Regions from separate parts of the Homo sapiens genome. Here region 1 is linked to region 2. Evidence: fine-mapped QTL for protein levels in blood plasma. A gene starts in region 2. The other region holds a variant in brackets. All regions are shown on one strand. Distances are between the middles of the regions.

Evidence for each region. PIP is the chance, under the fine-mapping model, that this variant and not a neighbour inherited with it causes the effect. The UK Biobank Pharma Proteomics Project read protein levels with antibody pairs (Olink). The fine-mapping took linkage between variants from a reference panel, not from the people measured, so its PIPs are less certain.
Region 1: its variant is fine-mapped to the plasma level of the IL22RA1 protein (UK Biobank, PIP above 0.99).

What each region holds. Positions count from the first base shown.
Region 1 is chr1:24,120,405-24,123,241 of GRCh38, reverse strand. It overlaps IL22RA1 (interleukin 22 receptor subunit alpha 1), which reads left to right. Exons shown (of 7, transcript NM_021258.4): 7 at 1,505-2,837. The coding sequence ends at 2,437. Among named protein-coding and RNA genes, the nearest start is that of MYOM3, 9.7 kb to the right of the region's middle. RefSeq lists a silencer at 2,509-2,803. The variant G/A (reference allele first, on the strand shown) is at 941.
Region 2 is chr1:24,141,928-24,144,799 of GRCh38, reverse strand. It overlaps IL22RA1 (interleukin 22 receptor subunit alpha 1), which reads left to right and starts at 1,660. Exons shown (of 7, transcript NM_021258.4): 1 at 1,660-1,760. The coding sequence starts at 1,718.

The DNA of each region.
Region 1 (2,837 bases), 22 kb after region 2:
CCCAGTTGTCCCCAAAATGCAGGGATCCACAGACAAAGCAGGAGATGGGCCTGCTCTCTCCATTCACGGAGCTCACAGTCCCAGCTAAAGTCAACGGACGTGTAGCCCAGCAGGTCTCAGGACACATTGAAGTGGGGTGGGTGATCAGGAATAGTAGACATGGAATAAAAAACCCACATGGCTTGGAAGTGTCCAGCACCAGGAGGGTAGTGTGGGACTTGAGTGAGCAGCAAGGCAACGAGGGAGGAATGGTGGGCGCCAGGAGAGCCGTGGCACTCATGCCCTGTCTAAATGGGCAGCCGGGCACCACCATGTGGGAATGCAGGCCCAGCACTGCCTGATCTTCATGTTTTTCAAGAGAAGCCAGAGTTTCAGATTATATTGTGGAATCTCCCAATTTTCAAATATTCAGAACTAATTTTTTAAACAGATTTTTTTTTTTTTGAGATGGAGTCTCCCTCTGTCACCCAGGCTGGAGTGCAGTGGCATGATCTCGTCTCAGCACAACCTCCACCTCCCGAGTTCAAGCGATTCTCCTGCCTCATCCTCCCAAGTAGCTGGGATTACAGGCATGCACCACCACCACACCTGGCTAATTTTTGTATTTTTAGTAGAGACGGGTTTTACCATGTTGGCCAGGCTGGTCTCAAACTCCTGACTTCAGGTGATCTACCCACCTCGGCCTCCCAAAGTGCTGGGATTACAAGCGTGAGCCACTGCACCTGGCCATTTTAAACAGAAATTTTTAAATGGCAAAACTAATTGTTAAGTGGAAAGCCCTTTGTTACAGTTCTTTTAGAATTGCTGTAGCAAGTGAAGACCAGAACCACCCCCCACCCAAAAAATAAAACCACCCCCCACCCAAAAAATAAAAATAAAATGGAAAGCCCTACATCAGCCACACAAATCACATCAGCAGCCCCCACCTGACGCCAGTGCC[G/A]CCTCTGCTAGAGCAGCAAGGCCACTGCAGAAGCCATGAGCTGAGCCACCTGAGGCACCCGGAGCCTGCTCTTGCCCATCGGAGGGACAGAGGAGCTCTGAGGGAGTTTTGCTCAATGTGCAAGTCCAGATGAAGCATTTTCTGTAAAGCTCTCCCGGTCTCTCCTGGCTCCTTCTTTTCCCACCCTGACCCTGTATTAGGCCCTCAGGGACCCGTGGGCCAAGCAACAATGCGGGCCACCACCTCGAGATCATGCCCCAAGGCAACCCCAAATCCTGGTCATCTACTCCCTGGATTATCCGCCTCCTGGAGAAACCAGAGCCCAGATCTCTCTCCCTGAGATAACCCAGGCTTTAGAACCAAAGAGCTGAGAGACCCTGTCCCTTCAGAGAGGCACTTGCACCTAGAGGAGTCTCTGGGAAGCAGATGGGGATATGGGACAGACGCATCTTGAAAAAGCCCCCAGATGCCTCCCTATGGAGGACCTCACCCACCCACATCACCAGTAGGGAGCTTGGGACTTACCCTAACCACAGGGGGGTGACTGTTGTCGTCCCTGCACAGAACGTCCAGCGAGTCCTGACTTTCCAGCCGCTGCGCTTCATCCAGGAGCACGTCCTGATCCCTGTCTTTGACCTCAGCGGCCCCAGCAGTCTGGCCCAGCCTGTCCAGTACTCCCAGATCAGGGTGTCTGGACCCAGGGAGCCCGCAGGAGCTCCACAGCGGCATAGCCTGTCCGAGATCACCTACTTAGGGCAGCCAGACATCTCCATCCTCCAGCCCTCCAACGTGCCACCTCCCCAGATCCTCTCCCCACTGTCCTATGCCCCAAACGCTGCCCCTGAGGTCGGGCCCCCATCCTATGCACCTCAGGTGACCCCCGAAGCTCAATTCCCATTCTACGCCCCACAGGCCATCTCTAAGGTCCAGCCTTCCTCCTATGCCCCTCAAGCCACTCCGGACAGCTGGCCTCCCTCCTATGGGGTATGCATGGAAGGTTCTGGCAAAGACTCCCCCACTGGGACACTTTCTAGTCCTAAACACCTTAGGCCTAAAGGTCAGCTTCAGAAAGAGCCACCAGCTGGAAGCTGCATGTTAGGTGGCCTTTCTCTGCAGGAGGTGACCTCCTTGGCTATGGAGGAATCCCAAGAAGCAAAATCATTGCACCAGCCCCTGGGGATTTGCACAGACAGAACATCTGACCCAAATGTGCTACACAGTGGGGAGGAAGGGACACCACAGTACCTAAAGGGCCAGCTCCCCCTCCTCTCCTCAGTCCAGATCGAGGGCCACCCCATGTCCCTCCCTTTGCAACCTCCTTCCCGTCCATGTTCCCCCTCGGACCAAGGTCCAAGTCCCTGGGGCCTGCTGGAGTCCCTTGTGTGTCCCAAGGATGAAGCCAAGAGCCCAGCCCCTGAGACCTCAGACCTGGAGCAGCCCACAGAACTGGATTCTCTTTTCAGAGGCCTGGCCCTGACTGTGCAGTGGGAGTCCTGAGGGGAATGGGAAAGGCTTGGTGCTTCCTCCCTGTCCCTACCCAGTGTCACATCCTTGGCTGTCAATCCCATGCCTGCCCACGCCACACACTCTGCGATCTGGCCTCAGACGGGTGCCCTTGAGAGAAGCAGAGGGAGTGGCATGCAGGGCCCCTGCCATGGGTGCGCTCCTCACCGGAGCAAAGCAGCATGATAAGGACTGCAGCGGGGGAGCTCTGGGGAGCAGCTTGTGTAGACAAGCGCGTGCTCGCTGAGCCCTGCAAGGCAGAAATGACAGTGCAAGGAGGAAATGCAGGGAAACTCCCGAGGTCCAGAGCCCCACCTCCTAACACCATGGATTCAAAGTGCTCAGGGAATTTGCCTCTCCTTGCCCCATTCCTGGCCAGTTTCACAATCTAGCT
Region 2 (2,872 bases):
GCGTCCCTTGTAACCTGTTTTTCTCGCTGTAGCTTCCCCACACTGCCTTGTCATCAAAGTCATCAAAAACCCTCTATCCATCATGGTTCATTCAGTAGCACAGAAACCTCTCCAGTCTTTCAGACCAAGGGACTTTAATGTAAAGGAGCTCGTCACCCAGAGGATGAAGGAGCTGGGACACTAATCAGGACAGACAGTTCAGAGATTTCCCCAAAGCAGGAAGCTGTGCCATCCCACCAACTGAAAGGAAAGATGAGGGGAGAAGGTGTTGCCAGAGCCAGGAGCTGGCCTCCAAACAGGAACAAGAAAGACATAAGGGGTTGCCTGGCTGATGGACTGTCCAGAGGGAGCCAGAACTGCAGAGGGATATGGCCATTGCTGGGGAAGCCACTCAAACAGAAAACGAGGGGAGAAATGCTCTGATCTCTGCCTCCCCAGTCTTCCCCCAGGGGCTAAACCTATCAGAAAGCAGTTGATAAAGGAGTCTAGAAAATGTAGTTTCCTGCAGTTTCAGGAAATGACTGGCATGGGCCCTACCTTAATTCCTCCAAAGCACAGCTTAGATTTGGCTGTTTTGTCAAACAAACTTTAGCAATCAGGGCTGATAACAATTACAATTCAGGAAAGAAAAACTTAAACACCGATCTCAGCATATCACAGCCCATTACACCCAACCCGTTGGCAGGATCCCTGCTAAAATTTCGCTTGCCTTTGTGTGCTTGGGGCCAGGCAAACTCTCCCCAGGGGCAGGACCCTCCAATCGTGTCCACCCTGACCAGAGTCCAGGCCCCAGGGCCCTTCTACCTTCTCCAGGCCCTGCAGGAAGGAGAAAACCATTTCCTAAACACCTGTCCCTTCATTCACACGAAGCTCATGTGCAGATCCTGCCCTACGTGGCAAAATGATGGGAGAGCAGCCTGAATCTTCATCGTCCCGAACCAAAGCCCCATTCATGAAGTTCAGCCCCATCTCTAGCACAGCAGAAAGAATCACTGAAGTTTGAGTTCCATTTTTTTTCTAAACTTTTGCAGATCCTAGACCCAAAGGCTCAAGGTAAGAGCGGCTGGGCTTCCTCACCCCCAACGGCCTCTCTAGGGGAGAGCTGTTCCCAAGCCCACCCCAAGCGTGGGGACCTGCCTTGATATGGAGGATCAAGGAGGAGCATCGGGTGCCCTCAATCTCCTCCTGCCAGAAAAGCAAAGGAGTCACAGCTTTTCCTTTGCTGCAAGAAACATTCTGGGACCTTTTTTTTCCCCCTCTGTTGTCCAGTTATTTTCATCAGGGTAAATCCCCTAGGAATAGAATTATTAAAGCAAAAGATATGTATGTGGTGTAGGCTTTTGATCCACAGTGCCAAATTGCTTTTTGATAAGGCTGCATATCGTGGATTATTCTTGCCTTTTCTGCCCCTCAGCTCCTTGATAAACCACTTGGGATGAATCAGCCACCGGACCAGATAAACAAGCCAGCCTGTTACTATTGCTGTTTTCTGCAAGTCGGAAGGGAACTCCCTTAGATCCCGCCCAGAACCTGGAATTCCAGAGCACACAGGGCCAGGACACCTTTGTACCCCTGCTCCCCACCGGCACAGGTCCCACCCACCCCCTTCTCCCCGCCCCATGCCCGGGTGGAGCCAGCTGCCAGGGCGCCAAGACTCCCAGCCCTCTCTCTGTGCACGGCAGAGTAGAGGCCAAGGGAGGGCTCTGTGCCAGCCCCGATGAGGACGCTGCTGACCATCTTGACTGTGGGATCCCTGGCTGGTGAGTGCCCATCTACCCTGTGGTCAGACCTCCCTTATCCCAGGGGCCAACGATCAGGGTCATCTCCCCAGCACCCTCCCCAGCCCGAGCATAGCCAGTTTCAGTTTCTCCCCTGCTAGGGCTGAGCAGGGTGCCGGGTGTTCACGGAGAAGCAAATGCCCAGCTTAGTTTGCTGGGGGCATGAGAGGGTGCCTCAGACCCTGGGTTCTTCCAGGGACCCAAAGGACCCTCGGGTCTTGAGGGATATAGCCAGCTGTCTGAACTGGGGGTGCTGGATCGCTGCACCTCAGTGAATGGAGAATTGGCCTGGAGGAGGCAGACATCCTTCGGTCCCTCAAACGGTGTCGGCACAGTTTGTACCATCCTTCCTCTGCCTCTCACTTGGCACTGGCCTGACAGGGGAGGAGGAGGAAGGACCGGGGGAAACGAAGCTTGAGTTCACTATTGCCTCCCTCCATGCCCCTGCAGGGCCTCTTTGGCCCCTTTTGTTATCATAGATCTGAAAGAGCATTTTCTCCTAGAGTGGCCAGGTCTGCTACATTAATAGGTCTTAAGACACAGGACTCATTTGGAAACAGGTCTTAAGGGCATAGTGTTCAAAGCCAATAAAGTGAGCGGAGTGGGGGGCTCATCATTATGGAGAACGTTACATGAGACCCTAGACTCTCTCTCTGCTCTCCTGGTGCATTGCATGAAATTCAGGGAACTTCCTTAGGAAGTCAAAGCATAGTCCTGATTGAGGATGGCGAGCAGGTATGGCCTCGGCCAGGCCCTCCTTGCTCAAGTGCAGGACGAGGCCCACGAAAAGGCAGAGCTTCCCACCTTCTCTGCCACTGTCCCGCCAGGGCTGCCTGCGTCTCCAGGGCTTCCAGCTCTGTGGGACCCCCTCCAGTCTGCTTCCCAGCATCAAGCTGGGCGTTCCAGGAAGATGTGAGGCACCCCCTTGAGGCACCAAGACACGTCCCTTTAGACCCTCAGCCATACTGGTTAGAAATCCTAGAGGCTCCCAGCCCTTTGAGATGGGGGACCCCAAGAAATAGCCCTTAGGAGATTGTCAAGGGTCAGCTGCCTCGCGCTGCACACACCGGGCCCTCACCCCCCCAATCTTAGGC